Linked DNA regions of Homo sapiens. The protein of the gene in region 1 interacts with the protein of each later gene in a biochemical or structural test. Each region holds a gene or a part of one and is shown on either strand. Other genes may lie near its edges.

Region 1 (3,909 bases):
ATCTCAATTACTCCCCCCACCCTCTCTCTATATGTATGTGTATATAAAATTTATTGGTTTTGTTTCTCTCAAGAACCCTGACTAATGTAGGGTTCAAAGGCTTTGGGGATCATTCTAAAAGCAAGACGAAAGACAAATGTCCACCAGAGCTTGCAAATACTGTATTTATCAATCCCTCCTCTTCTTGGCATAGTTTCTTTCAAACTTCTTAGTGTCCTCTTCCCATTATTACAAACTTCTCGTTTCTTCTAAGGTCCTTCTAAATTGGTGAGTTCTCAGTGGGAGTTGAGTGACCTTTTCCCTCAGTGTGACTATCACTGCCCAATGTCATTGATACATTATACAACTCCCCATCCCCACTTCCCCTCAGCTCCTGTTAACCACCATTCTTTCTGTCTCTATGAATTTGACTACTCTAGATTCCCCATGTAAATGGAATCATACAGTATTTGTCTTTTTGTGACTAGCTTATTTCACTTAACATAATACTCTCAAGGTTCATCCATTTTGTAGCATCTGCCAAAATTTCCTCCCTTTTAAGGCTGAACAGTATTCCATTGTACGTAGATACTGCATTTTGCTTTTCCATTCACACAAAGAGAGACACTTGGGTTGTTTCCGCCTCTTGGCTATTGTGTATAATGCTGCTACCAGCATGGGGTACAAATATGAGAAGTGAGGTTTAGGATCGTGTGAGGAGGATCACTTGTAGAGGGAAAATAGTGAAATAGGACGACCAGATAGGCTCTGTTGGAACTCGCGCCCATTGTTTTAAGACGCAGCTCAAATGTCACCTGGTTTTAGAAGTCTTCCTGGTCTCCGCAGGCAGTCAGTATCTCTTTCCTAAATCCACCACATTCCCGTAGACAGACACCACATTTATGCAAATCTCCTTCTCACAGACAGTGAGTTCCATGGGGGTCCCCTGGCAGCCTCCAGCCCTGTACCATGCTAACTCTTCCGGAGAGGAAATGGGGCCTCGGGAGAGCCTTTGAAGCCTGTGTTGGTACAGGCTGTCCTTCCAGCTAACGGGGCTCTCTGGGGAATGTATGTTTGACTTTCTATTCCCGGTAATATAAGTTCAAATGTTTGTGGATATTTGAAGCTCGGATGAAAGCGTTTCTATTCATGCCCCTAGAATCTGTGAGGCCTTTTCTTTCTTTTTTTTTTTTTAAACAAGAGCCCACAGCAAAACTTGGGTTACTTGGCTGAGGAAAGGAATGTAGAGCTAGGAGCAGGGTTTCATCTTCAGCCCCAGTCGGGCAAACCAGTGGCAGAAGGGAAAGCAGAGCCCAGGGGTCCCCATCCCGTACCTGGGGCGCAGGCCCCGCTGGGGTGGGAGGGAGAGTGGAGGGCCGGGCAGGCTGCAGCCGCGGATGGCTGCCCCCCCTGCCCCGGTGTTACTGGGAGGACGGAGGTTGCGACAGCAGCCGAGCCCACCCAGTTGCAGCCGGCTCGGGGCTTAGGGCAGGGGCGGGAGGTGACCACCGCGCCGCTGGCCGCCTCGCCCAGACATTCCGTTTCTGCCGCTGGAATGCGCGGACAAGGCTCCTTGTTGGCCTTGGGCGGGGTTCGCCGGGCCGGCCTGGCGCTCGAGGCCCCGGGGCGGGGCGGGGCCCGAGGCCGCGGGACCTTTAAATCCGAGCCTCGCGTGGGCTCCTGGCCCCCGACGGACACCACCAGGCCCACGGAGCCCACCATGCCGCGCCCGGCCCCCGCGCGCCGCCTCCCGGGACTCCTCCTGCTGCTCTGGCCGCTGCTGCTGCTGCCCTCCGCCGCCCCCGACCCCGTGGCCCGCCCGGGCTTCCGGAGGCTGGAGACCCGAGGTCCCGGGGGCAGCCCTGGACGCCGCCCCTCTCCTGCGGCTCCCGACGGCGCGCCCGCTTCCGGGACCAGCGAGCCTGGCCGCGCCCGCGGTGCAGGTACAGGCGGGCGGCGGGAGGGACGCGTGAGCATCGAACGAGGAGAAGCCCAGGGCATCCACCAAGCGCGCTTCATCCCGGCCTCAGGCCGACCGTGGTGCGGGGGAAAGAGGCCCCTCCCGGATGAATCCTGTGGGGGAAACTGAGGTCCAGAGAAGGGGAGGGAGATGCCCAATATCACTCATGTGTCCAGGCTAGAGATGTGGGTCTCCTGAAGCTCTCACTCCCCTGTGATTCGGCCAGGAGCACAGGGCAGCTGGGGAGCGCAGGGGCTGCTGCCCAGCGGCTGCTGCTAAGCTCCGTCCCAGTCCTGACCTCTCCATTCAGTGAGCAAACCCTTCCTGAGACTCTGCTGTTAGTTCTCTTGGAATCTCTCCATCTCCATCCAATATCAGGGCGTGATCTTTCCTCCCCTCCCACAGTCCTCAGGCTGCCTCAGACTGGAAGGTAAGGGATGCGGGTGTGAGACCAGGAGGAGATCCGAGGAGCCGTAGGATACCCCAGGATCAAGACACTCTGGGTCTTTGGCGAACAATTCTATTTCTCTTTTTGGTCAGCAATTGATTCCTGAAGCAGAGCAAAGCTCATAGTGCAGCGAAGCGGGCAGGTCGTCTGACACAGCCCCTGACAGCACATGAAGGGAAACTGAGGCATATCAAGTTGAAGGGACTCTGTGAATCAGTATCAGAGGCCACAATAAAATTCAGGGCTCCGAAATCCCAAGCAAGGTCTCTTTCCACTGCCCCAGCCTACCAACCTCTTAATATGGTTTACATAAGATTGTATCTTCATTTCCAAAAAGCGCAGCTTCAGTCTTGCTAAAAAGAGTCTGTGCCAGGCCATTTCTGGGTATGCAGTCTCATTTGGCCAGCCACGCTGCATGCCTCAGGCTGATTTCAATTGTCTATCCCCTTCTGCATCTTTCTGGATAAGCTGAGAAGGAGCTCAAGGGACTCTTTCCTGACTCAAATACTCAGTCCCCGTATTTGAAGTGGCAGATTTGAAATGGCAAAAGCATTGCTGCTAAGGCAGGAGGTACCGGGGTCCACAGGGCTAGATTCAGCTGGTGGCTGGTTGCTCCAGGCCGGGAATTGAGGGAAAGCCTTTCTTCTGGAAGTTAATCTTACTCTAGTCCTGACCTGCCTCCCTCTGGGATGGGACTGGAAGAGGAAGGAGAGATTCAGCACCAGGTGGCCATGTCCCCCTAAGCTTTACTGGTCTTTCATTACCTAGAGTCCGAACCTGATCATGAATGATAACCCATTAATAAATGCGAGATTCCACCCTGTTCCAAATTATCTCCTTTTAGCAACCAGAAATTGCTAAGCTTCGCTATGGATTTTTATTTCTAGCAGGACTGTAAGGACTCAGTGGTATTATGAGTATGGGAACATTTTAGGAGATTCAGATTCTTTCTTTGTTCTTGGGAATCAAATTGCTGCTATTTAGTAAATGGGAGTGAGATTCAAAAACAACTAATGATTGATGCGGAGTACCAGTCAGGAAGGAACCAGATGTTCACAGAATTTTCTGCCACCATGGTCAAGCCTCAGGTATTAGTTTTCTATGGCCACTGTAACAAATTACTGTGAATTTAGTGCCTTAAGACAACACACATTTATTACCTGAGAGTTCTGTGGGTCAGAAGTCTGACCCTGGTCTCACTGGGCTAAGATGAAGGTGTCGGCAGGGCTGTGTTCCTTTTGGGAGGCTCTAGGGGAGACTGCATTTCCCTTCCCTTTCCACCGCATGAAGGCTGCTGAGTTCCTTGGCTTATGGCCTTTTTCTTCCATTTTCAGAGCCAGCTAAAGCAGGTTGAGGCCTTCTCCCATTGAGTTACTCACATTTCTTTCATCTGCCTCCCTCTTCTACTTTATAATTACATTGACTCACTGAATAATCCAGGATAACCTCTTGTGTAGAGCTCTTTGACTTAATCACACCTGCAAAGTCTCTGCTCTTTGCCACGTAAAAGTAACATGTCTCT
Region 2 (3,909 bases), on another chromosome or scaffold:
GTTGGTTCCTGCCTCAGGGCCTTTGCCTATGCTGTTTCCTCTACCTGGAATGACTTTCTGCTACCTCTGCCTGGCTGTGTCCTCCTCATCATCCGGTCCTCAGCTTGGTGGTCCCTCCTCCTCCAGAAGCCCGCCCTGACCCATCCCCTTTCAAACAGATCAATTTCCTGGGGACTCCTACCATTGTCTGTGTGTCCCGTCACAGCCATGAGCCCACTGGGCTCCCCATTTGAAGGAGAGACTGGGTCTGGCTTCTTCACCCTGTGTGCCCATCACCCAGCACAGGAGACATGACACACAACAGTCCTTGATGTTTGTGAAATAATTATTGTGTCTAGAAATGTCCCCACCTCCAAGCTTCACATGCTTCCCTCCACCAAAACTGCCCTCACCTTTTCCCTCTGCTGATCCAAGTCCTCCTTTTCTTTTATGTCTGTCTCCTTGCTACCTCCTCCAGGAAGCCCTCGGTGACTTCTCTGTAGGCTCCCCAGAAAACATATCTGGCTCTGAGTCTAGATTCACCCCTGCCCTCGGGCAGTGGCCTTAGGCCAGTCACTTTTTCTCTCTGGGCCTCAGTTTCTCTGTCTATAGAATAGACGCTGTGAGTACTGGAAGGTGGGAGTGGAGAGTGTTAACTGATTGCAGGAGGTTAAGGGGTTTTGTAACTCCAGAGTGTGGCTGGCCAGTTAGCGGTAACTTTTATTTTTATTACAGGCTGTTCCCACAGCAGCTGGAGCACAGTTTGGAAGGTATGGCACAGCCTGGACAAACAGAAGCCCCGGACCTCCCCTTGCTAGAGCCCTTTAACTTGCTCCCCTCCAGATGGGGGCCTCACACCCCATTGCGCAGATTGGAAAACCAAGTGGGCCTGTCCCCTTGGACAGGGGTTGGGGCAAGATCCTGAACGCTGTCCCCTCCTCCACCAGCCGAGGGACCATGGGGAGGGGAGGGAACACCAGCAATGAGTTGGGTTGGGGGGAGTCATTTGCAGCCCTCCAGCGTTGGGGCCAGAAGCGGCCTCCTTGGACAGAGGCAGGAAAATTGAGAGTCCCAGGTCTCAACTGCCCCTCCCCTATTTTCCATTCATCATCATAATCATCATTACTATTAATCATTAATTAATAATTATTAACTTATTACCTCCATTGTGCAAGGGAGGAATTACGCCTGGGTAATTTTTGTACTTTTAGTAGAGATGGGGTTTCACCATGTTAGCCAGGCTGGTCTCAAACTCCTGACCTCAGGTGATCTGCCCGCCTTGGCTTCCCAAAGTGCTGGGATTACAGGTGTGAGCCACCGCACCCAGCAACTTACCCAGTTTTGAAGCACTTCAGGAGGAGTGGAGGGCCAGTCAGTCTGATCCATAGTGGGTGGACCTATTTTTTCAGACGCTGGTGACTCTGTTTCCCGAAGTGTGAGCTGAGAGCGTGGCCATGGAGCCTGCCTTGTTTGGAACTGGAACTCAGGTTTGGCATACAGCAAGCACTCAATCAATCAATCAATCAATGAGCTGAATGCTATGGCTGGATCCTGTAATCCCAGTTATGTGGGGAGTATCGCTTGAGGCCGGGAGTTTGAGACTACTAGCCTGCAGGACATAGCCAGACCCGGTCTCTAAAAATAAAAATAAAAATAAAAATAAATTAGCTGGACTTGGTGGTGCGGGCTTGTAGTCCCAGCTACATGGGAGACTGAAGCAAGAGGATGCGATACAGCCACACCCCGTCACACACACACACACACACACACACAGACGCACACACACAGTGAATGAAAGTGGGGGCAGTACCCCCTGACTCCCTGCCCCACCAGCTCTCTCCACAGACCCCGGGACTCAGTTTCCCCACCATGTCGGATTCAGCCGCGGGCGACTTCGCGGGGCATTCCGGGCGGGGACTTGAACGCAGGGGCCAGCGCCATCTGTTTACCTTGAGGCTGGACGTTGGGCAGGGCTGTGGTGGGCCGTCCCTGGGGCCGGCCGTGCCTTGGGGATAAATAGGCCCCGCGGGCCTCGTGGGCGGTAGAAAGCGAGCAGCCACCCAGCTCCCCGCCACCGCCATGGTCCCCGACACCGCCTGCGTTCTTCTGCTCACCCTGGCTGCCCTCGGCGCGTCCGGACAGGGCCAGAGCCCGTTGGGTAAGCCGCGTTAGCACCCGCGCCGTGCCCACGGCCCCACAACGGACTGTAGGACCCGTGAGAGGCCCGGGATCCAGGCTGTTTGGGGCTCACGGACTGTTCGTAGGGGACGTGCCGGGCGCAGAAAGCAGGTGGCGGGACCGAGACTAGAGGAGCGCAGTGGGGCCTCGGAGGTCCGGGTTCGCTGCAACGGTGGGAGTTGGTGGTGGGATTCCCCGGCCCCATGACGCCTCACCAGGTCCCCTGCCGCCGCAGGCTCAGACCTGGGCCCGCAGATGCTTCGGGAACTGCAGGAAACCAACGCGGCGCTGCAGGACGTGCGGGAGCTGCTGCGGCAGCAGGTGCGGGGCCCGGGTGCGGGGCAGGGAGTGCCAGGGAACGGAAGGGGGTCTCAGTTCCCAGCGAGGAGAGAGGAAGTACCCGAGAAGGTGGAGAGGAGATGGGGAGGGAAGGGGGTCGGCGGGTAGGGAGTCCTTGGCGAAAAGAGGCTGTAGAAAGGGACCCCGGGGTAGAGAGAGGGGAGACCCGAGGGATGAGGAGAGGTTGGGACCCCGCTGATTCCATCCCACCCCTGCAGGTCAGGGAGATCACGTTCCTGAAAAACACGGTGATGGAGTGTGACGCGTGCGGTGAGCGCGGCGGGGCGGTCGGGAGAGAGAAGAGACGGGAGACAGAGACACAGAGACAGAGACAGAGAGCCAGGGAAAGCTGGGGAGGAAAAGAGACGGAAGGAGATGGAGGCTGACGGAGAGGTGGACGGACGAACGGGAATGGGATGGGGTGTGTAGAAACAGAGACAAAAAGAGACAGAAGCGGTGAGAGAGTTTTGGGGAAGTGAGAGACGCCACGGGGCAGAAAAGCGGGACAGAGACTCAGAGAAGAGACCGGGGAGACCCCGCGGTCAGAGCGCGCAGCCTCTGGGGCGGGATCGCGGACAGCGCAGGATTTCGGGCCGCCCCGGGGCGGGGGGTGGGGGGGAAGGGGAAGCCTCCAGCCCCGGGGCGTGGCCATGATAGGCTCTGCCCCCGGGCGAGCCACCGATCAGCCCCGCCGCTTCTCCCCCCTCCCCCCCGCAGGGATGCAGCAGTCAGTACGCACCGGCCTACCCAGCGTGCGGCCCCTGCTCCACTGCGCGCCCGGCTTCTGCTTCCCCGGCGTGGCCTGCATCCAGACGGAGAGCGGCGCGCGCTGCGGCCCCTGCCCCGCGGGCTTCACGGGCAACGGCTCGCACTGCACCGACGTCAACGAGGTGCGCTAGCCCCGACACTCCACCGCCCTGACGACTCCCTCTACCGCCCCCCAATCTCTCGCCGCCCGGGAGACCCCTTCCTCCACTGGGAGTGTTCGCCCCGAAGAGCCTCTCACCTCCGGGGGCGCACGGCCAGACTACCTCCTTACCGCGGGGGGACGCCCAACCCAAGGACCATCCCCGTCACCACCCGGGACGCCCGCCCCCACAACCCCCTACATAGCTAGTGACGCCCGCCCCGACGACTCCCTCACCGCCAGGGGTGGTCCGCCCCAGCTACCCTCCTCGCCGCAGGGGATCGCCAGTCCCAACGACCCTTCCACAGCCAGGGAACGCACGCCCAGACCCCCCGCCACCGCCGGGCACGCACGCCCCGACGACCCCTGCCCCCCTCTGCTGGGGATGCCCGCCCTCATCCTTCCTCCCCTCGCCCATGAGGGAACAGCTCTCCTCTCCTCTCCCGGTTGCGCCCTTGCCGTCATCAAGGCAAAGTCGTGCCTGACCCCTGCGACAATTGCTTCCA

Evidence for each region.
Region 2: the proteins of MATN3 (region 1) and COMP form a complex in vitro, tested with the Homo sapiens proteins (one study listed by IntAct).

The regions. Positions count from the first base shown.
Region 1 is NC_000002.12:20,010,422-20,014,330, reverse strand, and holds the start of MATN3 (matrilin-3 precursor), read left to right. Parts: upstream 1-1,662; 5' UTR 1,663-1,699; coding exon 1,700-1,922; intron 1,923-3,909. UniProt on the Homo sapiens protein: Major component of the extracellular matrix of cartilage and may play a role in the formation of extracellular filamentous networks.
Region 2 is NC_000019.10:18,789,419-18,793,327, reverse strand, and holds the start of COMP (cartilage oligomeric matrix protein precursor), read left to right. Parts: upstream 1-2,022; 5' UTR 2,023-2,058; coding exon 2,059-2,137; intron 2,138-2,392; coding exon 2,393-2,478; intron 2,479-2,714; coding exon 2,715-2,766; intron 2,767-3,213; coding exon 3,214-3,386; intron 3,387-3,909. UniProt on the Homo sapiens protein: Plays a role in the structural integrity of cartilage via its interaction with other extracellular matrix proteins such as the collagens and fibronectin.